Linked DNA regions of Homo sapiens: region 2 is linked to region 1. A link means that fine-mapping ties the variant in region 1 to the expression of a gene that starts in the linked region. Tissue or cell type: testis. Region 1 holds a variant in brackets; the other region holds the start of a gene. All regions are shown on one strand. Distances are between the middles of the regions.

The links. PIP is the estimated chance that this variant, and not a neighbour inherited with it, causes the effect.
Region 2: LINC02082 starts here. The variant in region 1 is fine-mapped to the expression of LINC02082 in testis (GTEx, PIP above 0.99).

What each region holds. Positions count from the first base shown.
Region 1 is chr3:168,824,431-168,832,906 of GRCh38, reverse strand. It overlaps the pseudogene EGFEM1P. Among named protein-coding and RNA genes, the nearest start is that of LINC02082, 73 kb to the left of the region's middle. The variant G/A (reference allele first, on the strand shown) is at 3,781.
Region 2 is chr3:168,897,299-168,905,774 of GRCh38, reverse strand. It overlaps LINC02082 (long intergenic non-protein coding RNA 2082), which reads right to left and starts at 3,830. Exons shown (of 5, transcript NR_109989.1): 1 at 3,796-3,830; 2 at 2,235-2,409.

The sequences.
Region 1 (8,476 bases):
TTCCATGGTCTGGGCCAGGGTGGGGTGGATGGTTTTGGGAAGATATAAGTACATTACATTTATTGTGCACTTTATTTCTATTATTATTACATTGTAATATATAATGAAATAATTATGCAACTCACCATAATGTAGAATTAGTGGGAGCCCTGAGCTTGTTTCCTGCAACTAGATGGTCCCATCTGGGAGTGATGGGAGACAGTGATAGATCATTGGGCATTAGATTCTCATAAGGAGCATGTAACCTAGATCCCTCACATGCGCAGTTCTGCAATAGGATTCATGCTCCTTTGAGGATCTAATGCCACTATTGATCTGACAGGAGGTGGCACTCAGGCAGCAATGTAAGCAATGGGGAGTAGCTGTAAATACAGACGAAGCTCCACTCACTTGCCCAACATTCACCTCCTGCTGTGTAGGCCTGTTTCTAACAGGCCACAGACAAGTACCAATCTGTGGCCCAGGGGTTGAGGACCCCTCCCCCATATATACTTAACAAATAATAGGTACATAAAAGACTCAAGAGATAGTAACAAAATTAAAACTTAATGGTTATTATGACCTGAGACCTTTCTCGCCTTCAATGTACTCTGAAAACTTCTCAGGAATATTGACACCATATGGACATTTTTAGGGTGTTTGCTTGCGAAAGACACAATGATATTTATACACAGTGGCATTAAAAAAAGAAACACTTAGAGAGAAAAGAGTTCTATATGTCAGACTGGTCCTTATATTTGAATATTAAGAAATTATGGTACTAGAATGAATAGATGCCAAACAAGTAAATATAAATCATAAGTAGATACAATTGAATCATAAGTAGATAAAAAATTGCAGAACACAGTGGACTGTGAGTCCAACTCACAAACAAAGGGTCTGTGTCTATGTCTATATGAAAGGTATGTGTATTGGAGGGCAACTTCTGGATGACTTGCCTTGTAGAAATAAGAATTTATTTTGCGCTTTGCCAGATATTCAATTCAGGACTCTGGAAGCAAGCAGGAAGAGTAATCACAGATTACTGTAGGCAGCTAGCCAGCTATATTTACCCCAACACACAAAGAGGCTTTTAAACACAGTCAAGATTGGGTAGCCCTCTAAAAACGAAAAAAGACTGAGACAACTCAGCATCTGCAGAAGGTAGAGAAAATTTGTTAGGTCATTAGGTTAGGTGAAGAACTGGATATATAATCAACTTCTGTTTTTGTTTTTGTTTTTTGAGATGGAGTCTCGCTCTGTTGTCCAGGCTGGAGTGCAGTGGCATGATCTCGGCTCACTGCAACCTCTGCCTCCTGGGTTCAAGCAATTCTTGTGCCTCAGCCTCTGGAGTATCTGGGATTACAGGCGCCTGCCACAACACCTGCCTAATTTTTGATATTTTCAGCAGAGACAGGGTTTCACCATGTTGGCCAGGGTGGTCTCAAACTCCTGACCTCAGGTAATTCACCCACCTCGGCCTCCCAAAGTGCTGAGATTACAGGCGTGAGCCACCGCACCTGGCCCTATAATTAACTTCTGATATACAGCATCTGTCATCAGGCTTGGTCCAGTTGAACAGGTAGGGACATTGGCTGATATCAAGGTCCCACCAGGAAACGCGGTGTACCAGGCAACTTAGGCTGTAGAAATAGGTTGGATGTGCTATATAAGGACCAAACAAACAAACAAACCAAACAAAACAAAAACAACATCCCTCCACCATTAAATTGAGTATGGGCTATTAATAGCATTTGACATTTCAACAATGTTTTCGGCTATGTTAGCAACGATTTTTGCAATCTGCAAAGGTGGGGCCAAAAATAAAACAACCTTAAGGAAATTTCTTGACTGCTTAGGTTTTTTTCTATGGAATCTTAAATTCCTTTATTTTCTCTCAATTTTATAAGCAGGCAGCTACAAAATTAATATTAGAAAGCACTGTCTCATTTGATAGATATATAATATTGGTATGTACTTTACTGATTATCTAGTCCTCAATTATTAATTACTTCAGACAAATTACTTAATTCTTCCTATATACAGCCTCCTCGTTCATGAAATGGGGATGATAATAGTACCAAATTCAGATAGTTGTTCTAAGGTTTAAGTGAGCATACTGATGGAAAACACAAAACACAGTGTGTAATACAGAGTAGATACTCAACATGAGCTTTGAGTAATACATCACTATACAGCATGTCTATATTTACTACATAATGTTATTCTCTATACATTGAATTATATATTATATAATTATATAGTCGAACTCTTTCCTTTTATATACAGACACTAAAAGCCAGAGATATTTGTTCACTTTTCTTTTTCTTTTTTTTTTTTTTTGTCGCCCAGGCTGGAGTGCAATGGCGCAATCTCAGCTCACTGCAACCTCTGCCTCCCGGGTTCAAGTGATTCTCCTGCCTCAGCCTCCTGAGTAGCTGGGATTACAGGCGTGTGCCACCACTCCAGGCTAATTTTTGTATTTTCAGTAGAGATGGGGTTGGCCAGGCTGGTCTTGAACTCCCGACCTCAAGTGATCCTCCCGCCTCGGCTTCCCAAAGTGCTGGGATTACAGGTGTGAGCCACGGCGTCCAGCCTACATTTGTTTACTTTTCTAAGGTAACTCTGTTGTATTTAAAAGGAATGATTGCATACATTGAAAGTGAGTATAGAAGGAAATAATCTGGACTCTTGAGATGAAGCTAAGGAATCATCATTGTCTGATGTTAGTCTTCTAATCCATTGAAAAATCTTCTCATGAAAAGTGTTTTCAGAAATGGAGTACAGACCAATAAAGCTGTGGTGCTACAGCTTTCTTGATTTCCTCTTGCTATATTAAAAGGCTGAGTAATTCAATCCAGTTTAACGAGTATTGGTTACTGGGTATTTTTCAGTATCATAAACGCTGTGTTTTGCAAGTTTTTTTTTTTTTTACTCAGTAAATTATTTCGATGGAATTTTAAGTTGTCAAAAATGTTCTTTAATTGAATCTAGCAAATCTTTATTGAGTACCCCTTGTATATTGAAAAGTGGGGTGTACAAAAATTAATGATAAGCAGTCTTAATAGCAGGCAACTAATTATAATACAATATGATTGGTGCTGCTATGGAAAGAAGGGCTCTAGTATTTTGTTTACATATACTGGAAAATAAAAATGCTTGAGGAATAAATGCTTGAGGGAATAAAAATGGAAGAAGAAAACATGTATTACAGGAAAGAGCAATGAACAATGGCACCATGTTTTAAATGTACATGATGTTGGGGGAATGACTAAAATATGTAGGGTATACGTAAGCATGGTCAAAAGCTGGCTAGAGACAGGTTGATGATGGGTCTTTAGTGCTACGAACTTCATTATGAACAGTATCAGTAGCTCAATGAGGTTTATAAAGTAATGACATGATTAACTTTGTTTTTAATGATCTAATTGAGACACTGGAAGGTGATCAAGTAGAAAACAGAACAATTCTTGGCCCCCCTTTAGCAGGTATGTACTAAAAATGACAGCTAATTTGAATATTAACTTTTCAAAAATACAGATAGGAAGACAAATCTTCTACAGACCAAATCAACCGCTACTCAACTTAATGGCTTTATATCAGCTGCACCATGACCCCCTCTCATTCTCTTGGACGATGGGGGAGATGAACGCATTGGTAATGAAATACCCATCAGTCCTCAACTACATCCCTATTTTAAAACTGAATTTGCACAATAGCTTTTTGAAAGGCCTGTCACTGCTGCACTGTTGCCTCTGTCGCACTTCTCTGTGGGAGCTGACATTTTGCTGATACTTCATC[G/A]GGCTGGACCGCCTGCTGAGAGCCAGATTGGTAAGGGAAATGCATCTCACTGTGGGAAAGGATAGGAGATGTATTATTTAAATACAATTTATTTTACAGCAACTTTAAAAATCTGATTTACAATTGTTTCAGAGAGGAGGAAGTATCTTGTTGTACCTTAGCTCTTTATGTTTGGTAATATTTCAGATTTTAATTGTTTTTCTAATTTTTAAAACTTGTTTGCTGTTTTGCCTTGCTTTACACATACTCTTTTACTTCTACCTTGGATAACTGGTAACTGTCTTTTCTTTTTCTTCTTCTTCTTCTTCTTTTTTTTTTTTTTTTTTTAACAAAAGTGTGTCACTAAGGAAATACCAGCCCTCATTCGTGCTGGGTGTGGTAGAGGAAGTTGGAAAACAGCTTAGAGGTTGTTAAAGGATTCTCTAGATTGAGTCAAAACCCCAGCTATATGAATTCTAGAGTAAAAGACTGAGGAGACTGTGTTTACACATAAAGCAACTCAATACCTTCTTTTGTCTGTTTTTTGAATCTTGAATCCATTTAGCCAAACAATTGATTTTTGTCTTGAAAATAAAATAGCCTATCTAAATAGCAAATTTTTGTTGGTTGGAACTATTTATTGGTTAATTCAACCAAAAAGGTCAATCGGGTTATCTGTTTAGAAACAGTAAAATAAAACTGATACCTGAAAAGTAATAATTTCTTCATATCAATAGAGAAAGTAAAAGTTAAGAAATTGTTTGGTGTGTTCAGAATACAAATATTTGCCAGCCAATGGTATGCTGGAGCCATAACTACCGGCTCGGGAAAGCCAACTGCTACATTTTCAGGAATTTTGCAAGCCATTTGAAATCACATTGATTGCTTGAAATCACCACGGTAGGAGTATTATACCTTGGAAATCGGCAAACACTAAAACTCAGTGCTTTTATCTTTCACAGAGCCTGTTAAACATTTGCCAGCTTAGCACTGAGGAAGGCTTACACCTGTGTTCATTATGGTTTTTATGAAGTTTGATCAAATAATATTTGAAGCATGGATGTATTTGGAATTAGTATCTCCCTTCCCATGTCTTTTCTCCTTTCTGATTTTCTCTCCTTTAATAGTGAAGGGGCCTGTTTTGTAAGTGCTCCTGAAAAATAAAAGTAATCACTAAATGACTAAGGAATAGAAAATGAGGTTTCTGACGAAAGGGAAATAAAATATTAGGAGGAAACGTTACTATGTTCTTTTAGGTGTTTATTTTTCAAGAGTTTTGGTAGTGCTGATGAGCTATGGTTAATATTCACAATAGGAGAAAAAGGAGAAAATGGTCTAAAATTAAAATAGCAATAAGTTAAATATGACTGAAGGAAAAAAATATCTTCACTATTATGGGAACAGTTTAGGCCAACAGAGAATACTTTAAGAATAGATAACTATTTTTCTTGGATATTTAGTCACCAATTGGTCTAAAGATGATGCCATTTTTTTCTCTGATTCCTAAGGAAAAAGTAGTAAACTAGTAAATATGAAAAAGACAGAAATGTATAAAGGAGAAAAATATTCACCCATAGTCCCACCATCTAGAGATGGACACTGTTTAAAAACTGCTGTCCTTTCTTCTACAATTTCCCATATACATACATAGCTACATGTTCTTACAAATTTGAATCATTCTGTACATATAGCTTTTAACATCAACTCAATGTCAATTTTTCTGACATGACATATTCTTCTAAAACATGAAACTTAATGGCCTCAGAAGAGTCCAGTGATATGCTGTATAATTTGCTCAATCATTCTCCTTCTAGTGGGTATTTAGGTTGTTTCTACTTTAAGCTTTTTTTGTTGTTATAAATAATGCTGGGATAAAGAAAAGGCTGGGAGCCCTTCTCTGATTATTTGCTAAAAGGCCTGACATGTAAGATTTAACTGCCCTTCACATAGATGATGCATTCTTATCAAGGGTGTGAGAGTGCCTGTGATTCCACCCCCATGGCCATGCCACACCATACACATACTGTTTAGGAAGCAAAAACAAAAAACAGCAACAAAGTCCAATCTACCATAATCCAGAGGATTTTTTAAATACAGTGAAATAAAAGATTTAAAAAGATTTTCCCCAAGTATTTGTATTTATAACTTCCAAACAACAGGATTTATTAAAAAGCCAATATATTTAAACGTAGCTTTTTGGTCTTTCCTGCCTCTAAAATATATTACTTATATAGCCTATGAGTATTTTTACAGTTCATTATGCAGAGTAACTAGGTTTTAAAATTCTGTGAGCACCATAACGGGATATTTAGAGAAATGTTGTATGCTTTTCTTCAAATACATGCCACTTTTAAAATGCCACACACATTTTTTGTGAGGTACGCGTGAAGCATTTTTAATGAATTCTATCATTTGGCTCCATTCATTTTCCTAAATATCTTATTATGGTGATTATATAATTTGTGTTTGTGTCTGTGTGTGTAAAATCAGATAATAGCATGTAATACTAAAATTGGACTGGACTAGGAGTCAGGGAATATTTTTGCATATTGAATTCAATACATGTATCATTATCAAGTTGCCAATAAAATGTAAATAGTATTACTTATCACTAACAAATCTCTCAGGACTATCATGAAATGTTTTTCTGGGATTTGAAGTCATAAAAGGAAAGAACTGTAACATAACTATGAAAATTAATATCTTAAAGAATGAGGAGTTTATCTTTTTCTTCACTTGTTCTTAAATGGTCTATTTATATCACTTGACAACTGGAACAGTGTAAACTTTATCACTATCTGCTTAATAATTATTCCATTAAAGTTGAGTTAGACAAGAGAAAATGTCACTTCACTGTGGAAATAGCAAGTAACTACCTTTTGAATATGTAAATTCTTACCTTTAAGAGGTATTTTTTTTTTTTTGAAGCAAACAAGTAGGTTAGGGATAGCCAACTGCTTCTCCAGTAAACTATTCTACTGTTTGAAATGCTTGTCAAAAGTGCCAGAATAATGGTTCTAAAATAAAGTATCTTGCTATATACAGAAAGTCATCAAAGATCTAGTCCTGTAACTTTTGCCTGAGGGTTCTCCCTAGGGGCAGCAATATTTCCCAAAGTGATCATATGATTAGCTCAGTGCTAAATACTATCTGCTTACATTTTATATATGGTGTTTCTGATTTTATATATTTGTTGGTTAATGGAAAGGCCTAAGCACTGAAAGCTAATTCAAATCACTGTTCACACTTCATAAAATGATAATCACAAATGTTTGCTAATCTTTATTAGACAAATAAATAGTAATGTAAAAAAAAAAGTATAATTACTATCCAGCCCATAGTTTTCCTCACATTCTCAAGTCACTGTGTTTCATTGTCAATGGAGTAGAGAAGGTGATACAGGCAGGGTTAGCACAACTTACAAATAATCACAACCAGAAAAGGGTACAGCGGGATAGTAGTTCTACTGGCTCCTTGAAACTAGTTCGATGTAGCTAATCACTTTCTATCACTCTCTAATCTGCTCCCATCTGACAAGAATGATAATTCTAGTCTAATAGGTTCTTAAAGTGCCTTTCAGTATAAATTTGAATAGCATACTATGGTAGATTGCTTCCAAAAATGGCTGCAACCATATCTCTCAACTTGAAGGTCTTTTGCAATAAGCTTCTGCTACTCTTCTCTTCAGAAGGTAGAATCTCTTTCTCCTTCCCCTGAACTTGGCTTGCCCATGACTTGCTTTAACCAATAGAATGTGGTGAAAGTGACAATGTGTGGCTTCTGAGGCAAGGCTTTTCCACCTCACATAGCTTTTGCTTGCACACTTTTGGAATGCTCCTTCTTTATTGTCTTAAAACTGTCACGCTATAGGAAAGTCCAAGTTAACCTTGTGGAAATGTTTTGTAAAGGAAAGGGCAAGTTCCCTGGTTGAGCAGCCCAGCCATGCCCAGTCTGTTCTCAAATATCTACCAGCCCAAGCAGTCACATGAGTGACCCCAGGGGACACCAGCAGTATAATCGCCTCATCAAACCATAGAATTAAGGGAAATATTAAATCATTGTTTTAAGCCACAAAGTATTGGGGTAGTTTGTTACACAACAATAAATGGTGGGAACATGCATCCTAACATAGCAATATCTTGTATAGCAGGAAAAAAAAGCATTTTTAAAGTTAACAGTTTTATTAACTTTGTTGGTTATTTCGTCTAGGTTTATGACTTACATATGGTACAGGATTTTCTTGTGTAATCAGGAGTGCAGTCACAATTTCCAGTTTTTTTGTTGCACTGACCTCCATTTTCACAGGGTGCAGAGGAGAACCAGCCCTCTGGTCCCCAGAGGCCATCTGGGCAGACATAAAATAAAAAGAGAGAGAGAGAAAGAAACGTAGACTTGTAAGAAGTCTCAAAATGGTCCAAGATTTCTACTGTTGCCTAACCAAGTTGGAAAAGTGTGTGTGTGTGTGTGTGTGTGTGTGTGTGACAGAGCTGCAAAGAAAGAAATATCCTAGTAGCCTCCAAGGATTTATAACACTTCCAAAAGTATTCCCTGAAGAAATCAACATGATACTATATCTTGTCACTTTGAAAACACAGATACAGAGGTTGGCTTTTTGCTGAAAATGTGGTTTTTCAGACAGTAACAATGGAAGCAATTTTGATATATATCTTTAGCAGCAGTTGCACAGAACAAAACCTGAAAATGAGATGTAATTTGT
Region 2 (8,476 bases), 73 kb before region 1:
GAGACTCCATCTCAAAAAATAAAAAAATGAAACAAAAAAAACAAAGAAAAAACAGAAAAAAATAAAGAAAAAAAATCCTTCAATACCTTAAAGACATAAAGAAGCAATGTGTTCAAATCCAGGCTAAATTTAGTGAGAATGATTTTTAAATTAAATTATTTAAATAAATAAGACAGTATCTGTGGAAGGTGATATCATATAATTTTTGATATTTGAAGTCCTGGGAGTAAATGACAGAGATGGGTGTGAGAGAAAGGAAGAAGGAAGAGAAGAAGGAAGAAAGAGATTAAAAGAATATGATGCACATACAGTAGGTAAATATCTTACAAGGAAGTTAGGTTTTGAAGTCTGTAAAATTTAACCTTTGAAACATTTCCTTAGGTGGCCAATCAAGTACAATACAGAATATGTAAGTCCAATATGGAAGACTTAAAACCTCTTGGAGGTTTGGCAAAAATATTAAACAATATATGCACAAAACTATTTATTGATACAAAATTTATAATACCAAAAGCTTAGAAAAGAATATTAATATGACCATGATCTGCTTCTAAATAATACCATAGAGGTACAGAGTGAGGGAGTGGCTGGAAGTATAGATGACACAAGATTAATCATAAATTGATTGATTATTGTTGAAGGTGAATGACAGATATATGGAGATTCATTATACCGTTATATCATTCTCTTAACTCTTGTATGTGTTTGAAATGTTACATAATAAAAACTTTAAATGATAGAATCAATGGTAAAAATATCCCACATACTAAATGCCAGAAAATTACTCAACTTACAATCAAAAAGAGCATGGACATGATAGTACTGTCTGTTTTTAAAAAGCTGATTTTGTAATCTCAAATCACAAAACTGATAAGAGCCATCTCCCATGAATTAGGCAGGATATCCATCTTTTCAAAATCCCATGAAAAATGGCCTTGAATCTTAGATTTGGAAGGACTGTCAGGTATTATTCAGCTCAATACCCTCATTTTCAGATGGGAAAATTAAATCAGAAAGAGGATGTGAACTGCCCAAAGATAGACCACATGGTATTAGCAGAGCTAGGGTTAGCATTCATGTTTATCCATGCCCATTGCAATGTGGTTTCTTCTATAACATGTTGTTGAATTTCATGACAGTTGAACGAGTAGTGACGGAGAGTAGATAATCACACTCATTTTCACTAAGTCGGAAGAGTCACACCACCCGCAGTTGAAACCATCTGGGTAAACGTACATTGTGAATTTTTTTCTGCTCTGAGTGCCTCAAGTTTAGGCCTCCAGCACAATGTTCTCATCCACACTTTGCCAGAACCTTTGCTCTGTAATCTGCCAAAATACAATGTCTCCTACAATAGTGCGCTCTAAATAAAGTTGGTGCTTTCCAGTGTTGTACAAAATAACAAATTGTGGTTCAGGAAAACAAACATTAGAACAACTATCAATATTCATTTTATCCATGTTTATCAATTTAAGCATTTATCTACATTTTATAATATACTTATTAGTCAAGACGTGCAAGAATGTCATTTATAAATAAAAATGCATGTATAGTGGTATAGCAGGCCCCCCATCCATGGAGAATACATTCCAAGACTCCCAGTGGATGTCTGAAAGCTCAGATAGCATTGAACCCTATATACACTACGTTTTCCACTATACATGCATAACAATAATAAAGTTTAATTCATAAGTTAGGCATAATAAGGCATTCACAGTAACTAATAAAAAAATTACATCAATGTACTTAGAGTTCTGCCAATCTTACAAAAATCTTACTGTACTGTACCGCAGGTAAACCACAGGCAAAGGGGGACTACTGTACTGATTAAATTTTTCCTGATGAAACAAATTTTGGAGACTTTTGGGTGGTCCTCTTCCCTCTTTGCAGCTGTGCCTATTCTTATTCATGTGATCTGGCTTCTCCCAGAGCCCTGTATCCTCCGCCTTGCCTGCCTGAAAGCCTCAGAGGTGGTGGAGATTCTTCAGCTTCATGCCTAGAAACTCAAGACTTAGTAGATTTGGTGTCCACAAAGCCTTTCTTTAGGCTTAAAAAGTGGCTGGTAGGGGAGTTAAGTTTAGGTCTCAGAGGAGCTCTTTCACATTAATACTATTTCAATTACTTAAGGAGTTTAGGAGTTTTCATGTGATATTTCAGTAACAATATCAATCATATTTACATAACAATTTTATTGGATATTCAATTATAGTTCTAAACAACTTGAATTAGCTTACTGGAAAATAGCTTCTTCACAAGTTTCTGCTGTATTTTATCAACCAATGACAGTATTCTCAAAAGTAGATCCTTTTTTTATTTTTGAGACGGAGTCTTGCTCTGTTGGCAGGCTGGAGTGTAGGGGCGCAATGTTAGCTCACGGCAACCTCCGCCTCCAGGGTTCAAGCAATTCTCCTGCCTCAGCCTCCAGAATAGCTGGGACTACAGGCGCCCGCCACCATGCCCAGCTAATTTTTGTATTTTTAGTAGAGACGAGGTTTCACCATATTGGCCAGGTTGGTCTCGATCTCTTGACCTCATGATCTGCCCACCTCAATCTTCCAAAGTGCTGGGATTACAGGTGTGAGCCACTGCGTCCGGCCTAAAGTAGATCTTTATTGAGGGAAAAAAGGCAGTGAATCAACTTGCTTTTTTCACAATAATTTCCTGTCCACCCAAGGCCACAGATAGACCTTCTATCTGCAGAATTGCAAAGGCCACCATTTTTACAAGTACATTTTAGCTGATAATTGAGGCCATGTCTTATCTGGGGACAACCTGTAATAAAATTTTGTAAAAATAAAATAACACAACACTTTTCTCTTCCTTTCTTTCTTCCTTCCTTCCTTCCGTTCTTTCTCTCTTTCTCTTTTTTTTTTTAAAGGAGTCTTGCTCTGTCACCTAGGCTGGAATGCAGTGGTATGATCTTGGCTCACTGCAACCTCTGCCTCCCAGGTTCAAGCAATTCTCCTGCCTCAGCCTCCTGAGTAGCTGGTACTACAGGTGCATGCCACCACACCTGGCTAATTTTTGTATTCTTAGTAGAGACAGTGTTTCACCTTGTTGGTCAGGCTGGTCTCAAACTCCTGACCTCAGGTGATCCACCCACCTTGACCTCCCAAAGTGCTGGGATTACAGGCGTAAGCCATGGTGCTCAGCCGGAAAAACAACATTTTTCTCTACTTCAGATACAGTAACTGTATCTAGATAGCAAAAGCTTAATAAATGTTAAAATTAAAACAAAGAACTACTCACATGTTATCTGTAAGGTAGCAAATATATCACTTTCATTCATTCATTTTTTTCATTCACTCCATGAATATTGATTAATACTGTGTGTTTGGTATACTGGGACCTGCAGAGACCCTTGTGAAGAAGGAGCAGTCAATCCTGGATGACTAGGGATAAGATTTTATATATTTAGTTTCATAACTGATAAAGAAGAAAAATGAGCAGTTTGTTTTCAAGTTACTGAAATGGTAAAAGTATTTCAACTTACAGAGGTGGGTGACACAAACTAAAATGCACTATCAAGAGGAATTAAGACACAAGTGGCCTGGGGGTGGTGGCTCATGCCTGTAATCCCAGCACTTTGGGAGGCCAGGACAGGTGGATCACAAGGTCAAGAGATCAAGACCATCCTGGCCAACATGGTGAAACCCCATCTCTACTAAAAATACAAAAATTAGTTGGGCATGGTGGCGGGCGCCTGTAGTACCAGCTATTCCAGAGGCTGAGGCAGGAGAATCCAGAGGCTGAGGCAGGAGAATCCGGAAGCTGAGGCAGGAGAATCACTTGAACCCGGGAGGCGGAGGTTGCAGTGAGCCATGATGGTACCACTGCACTCCAGCCTGTCGACAGAGAGAGACTCCGTCTCAAAAAAAAAAAAAAAAAAAAAAAAAAGGACACAAGTGAACGAAACTAACCAGACAAGGAAAACGGAGCCTCTCTTTCTTCAGTGTCACGGAAAAGATAATTGAATGATGAGAAGTGCAACCGATGGGAGTGCAAAGCCCCTCCAAGGTGAGAATCAGACTTGCATTTTGTTGCTTTTGCTATGAAGAACGCAAACCCAATACTGCCAGCTAATATGACTTTTTAAGGAAAACTCAAAAGTTCATATTTTATGTGAAATTAACAAATCTTTGAAAGTTGACCACTAATTAAAATTGTTTTACAGCGCTGCTAAAAGCCAAAACTATGACAGCCAATTCAAACATATTTGTGGCTACATTTGGCCAACAGCCTGCCATTTATGACCTGAAGTTTATAGTATTTTTACATAATAATATTTTCCACATGGATTATCTCATTTAATACTAAAAAATACTCCTGTGATGTGGGTAGCAGTATTCTTATTTTACTCTTGAGAAAATTGAAGCTCTGAGTCTAAAGTCTTGCTCAAACTTAAACAGCCTATAAGGATAAGAACTAAGAGTCAAATCTAGACTATCTGACTTCCAATCAAATTATTTCTATTCCAACTAGCAGAAGCAAACTAGAGTAATTTTTAAAATTCCAGCTAGCAGAATAAACATTAGAGAAATTTTTATATTCCAGCAAGTAGGAAAAAAAGAGTTAGAGAGACTTTTTTTTTTTAACTTGCCCAAAGGCATTGGTTAATACATAGCAGAACAGGTACATGAATTCAATCTGCATGATACTTTCTTTATTGCTTTTATTTGAGCAACTAGCTGCACTGAATTCCAGTACCAAATGAAAAAAATTTTTTGATTTTGTTACTTAAATAACAGTTATAGTTGTACAATTAATGGTTGAATCATCATTATACGTGCAATAGACTACCTTTAATTAAATCCATTTTACCTTTTGCATATAGGGCAAATTAAGCAGAATCAATATCAGGTGTTATTAAAATAAACTTTTGCCTGTTTTCCTTCTACGCTCCTAAAACAACCCTGTCCTCATCAGCCAGGAGACCCATTCATCTACCAGCCTATATGTTGAAATGGATTGATGAAATCAATGAATCTGTGAAAATACAGGACTTCTACTAAGCCAAGATAAGATTTAAAACATAATTGGGGAAAAAAAGCATAATTGAAAAAGTAAGAAAAACTCAGAAATATTTACTTCTACAGGTCTAGGTCTTATGACAATATTGACACAGAATTGTGTAAATGACTTTATGGCCTTTTTAAACTTTATGTAATCACATGTTAATTATTTCAAACAATATACAAAAATATATTATGAAAATATTCCATTCCTGTGTTCCAGTATTCTCAGTTCTTTTCTTAAAAACATCATCAAAAACGTCATAATTACCAGCTATTTTCTGTATCACAGGCTTCACTTCTTTCAATAAGACTTACCTTGAGTACTCTAAATTTTCAACACACCCTGCGCTCTCCAGCCTTATTTCATGCTCTTTTTTCTCTTACCACAGATTTTACTCCCTCTAGAGTACACACACACACACACACACACACACACACACACACGTTACTCTTAAGAACATTGAAGCTCAGAGTCTCAAGTCTCGCTCAGACTTAAGCAGCCTGTAAGGATAAGAATATATATATGTTAGAGGGGTATAAATAACATATATAAATTTATTAATTCCCTTATTATTTATATTTATTATTATCTCTCTCACTAGAAAGCAAGTTGCATGAGCACTTGTATAGTCTGTATTTTAACCATACACTTTATATGCTTAAAACAGGCATTGTCATTCAATAAATATTTTTTGAATTAAGTGGATAAATGGCTGGATATATCCAGAAATAGCCTATGGCTAGTAAAGCATAATATGTCTATCTCCTGTATCCCTTAATGCTTTTCTACCCAAAGGTTAATATGTGTGTATGTGTGAGTGTGTCTATATATATATATAAAATATATAATATATGATATATAATATATTATATAATACATTATATATAATAAATAATATTGTAAATGTTGCTTTCTTTTACATAAAATTTCCCAAGATTTTTCCAAATTAGTAAATATAGATTAACAATGTACTAAATTAGTACATGTATATAAAATTAGTATAGTACATAAATTAGTACACAAAGTATTTAAATAATTTTTCCAAATTACTACATTAGTACATATATGCCTCATTCTTTTTTAACAGCTACATAGGAATTTATTGTGCTTTGCAAAATTTATTTTGGCACTCCAGATTGTTTAAAATAATTTGCTACTACAAACAATGCTGTAATGAACATCATTATGTAAGTCTTCATTCTTATGATATGATAATATAGTATAATATCACAATATAGTACCTATAGAGTAAATTCTTCAAATAAAATATGTGCTTTTTAAGTAGTAATGAACACTATCAAATTTCCCTACAAAGAGATTTTCCAATTTACTAAGGATTATCAATGTGCCCATTTTTCAATCTTTAGCCAATATGGCATGCCATGATTATCTGATAGGTGAAGATGGTACAAAGTGCAACTTAAATTTGGATTTGTCACACTATAAATGATGCTTATCATCTTTTATAAGATCCACCGGGTGTTGTACAGCCTTTTCTTATTGATATATGAAAGAAATCTCTTTGCTTATTAAGAAAATTAGCCCAGATACAGTGGCTCACACTTGTAATCTCAGCACTTCGTAAGGCCGAAGTAGGAAGATTGCTTGAGCCCAGGACTTGAGATCAGCCTGGGAAATATAGTGAGACTTTGTCTTCATGAGAAATAAAAAAATTAGCTGGGCATGGTGGTACGTGCACATAGTCCCAGCTACTCAGGAGACTGAGGTGAGAGGATCGCTTGGACCCAGGAGTGAGAGACTGCAGTGAGATATGATAGCATCACTTCATTCCAGCCTGGGTAATAGAATGACACCCTGTTTCAAAAAAATAAAAACAACAAAAAAAACCCCCCACAGATCTTAAAACTTAATCTCCCATTCCAGCAGGTGTAGCTTAAAAAAAAAGAAAAGTAAAAGAAATAAAAGAAAATTAGTGCGCTTTGTTGGTCTTTCTTCATCCAGCTTATTTATACATTGCTTTTCTGTGTGTTTTATACCTTGAATAAATTTTTGATTTTCTTTAAGTCAAAAAGACCATGGGTTTCTTTTCTAAAAAATGAGTTCTGAGTTTTTGTCATGGCCATACAAAATAATGTTTTAATCCCCATGTTAATTTTGGTACTTGCATAATTTTCGTGATTATCTTTAAATACTTTATGCACCTGGAAGTAATTTGGATGAACAAAATAATGTAGGAATACAATTTTATCTTTTTCTAGATTGCTGTAATTTCTCTTAATGGAACTAATAAGGTCAGTCATATTTTACCTTTTTTTTTAGTAATTCCTCATTTCAAGTTTATTTTATTGTTTTTATTGTTCTTTATTTTCATCCCTTCTTATTACTAAATATTTACATAAATATTTTGGAAGATAAATTCAGTCTTTCATCACTAATTATAATACCATAGGCTTTATGTAAATGCAAATTATCAAGCTGAGAACATTCCCTTTATTTTTAGTTTTCTGCGTTCTTTAAAATCATGAATAATATTGAATTTTGTCAAATGCTCTTTCTGCATCAATTGGTATGATACTCCTAAATTTGATCTTTAGTCCATTAATATGGTAAAATTGATTTTCAAACATTGAACCAGCCTCACATCCCTAGAACGAAGCACACTTGGTGGTGTATAATTAATTTTTAAACTCTTGAATTATATTTTCTAATATTTTTTTAAACATTTTTGCTATGTTCATGAAAGACATTATTTGGTAGTTTCTGTTTTTGGTAATATTTTTGGTTTTGGTATCAGAATAAAATGAATTGGATTCCTTTTTCTTATATTTTAGTAAGAGATTGTGTAGAATGTTAATTCATCTTAACATTTTATAGAATTCTCCAGTCAAATCATCTGGAACTGGAAAATTCTAATTTATATTTACAGGACTATTCAAATTATCTATTTCATATTGGATTAGTTATTCTTTGTGCTCTTCAAGGAACGAGTTCCTTCTATCTAATTTGTCAAATTTATATGTGTAGAACTATTTATAGTATACCCTTATTATTCATTTCATGCCAGCAGTGTCTATAATGATATCCCCTGTGATACGGTTTGGCTCTATGTCCCCACTGAAATCTCATCTTGAATTGCAATCCCCACAATTTGAGGGAGGGACCTAGTTAGTGGGAAGTGACTGTATCATGAGGATAGTTTCCTCATGCTGTTCTCATGATAGTGAGTGAGATCTCATGAGATCTGATGGTTTAAAAGCTTTTGGCAGTTCCCCCAGCTCGCTCGCTCACTCTCTCCTGTTGCCATGTGAGGAAGGTCCTTGCTTCCCCTTCGCCTTCCACCATGATTGTAAGTTTCCTGAGTCCTCCACAGCCATGTAGAACTATGAGTCAATTAAACCTCTCTTCTTCATAAATTACCCAGTCTCAGGTAATTCTTTATAGCAGTGTAAAAATGGACTAACGCAGGAGATTGGTACTGGCAGAGTGGGGCACTGCTATA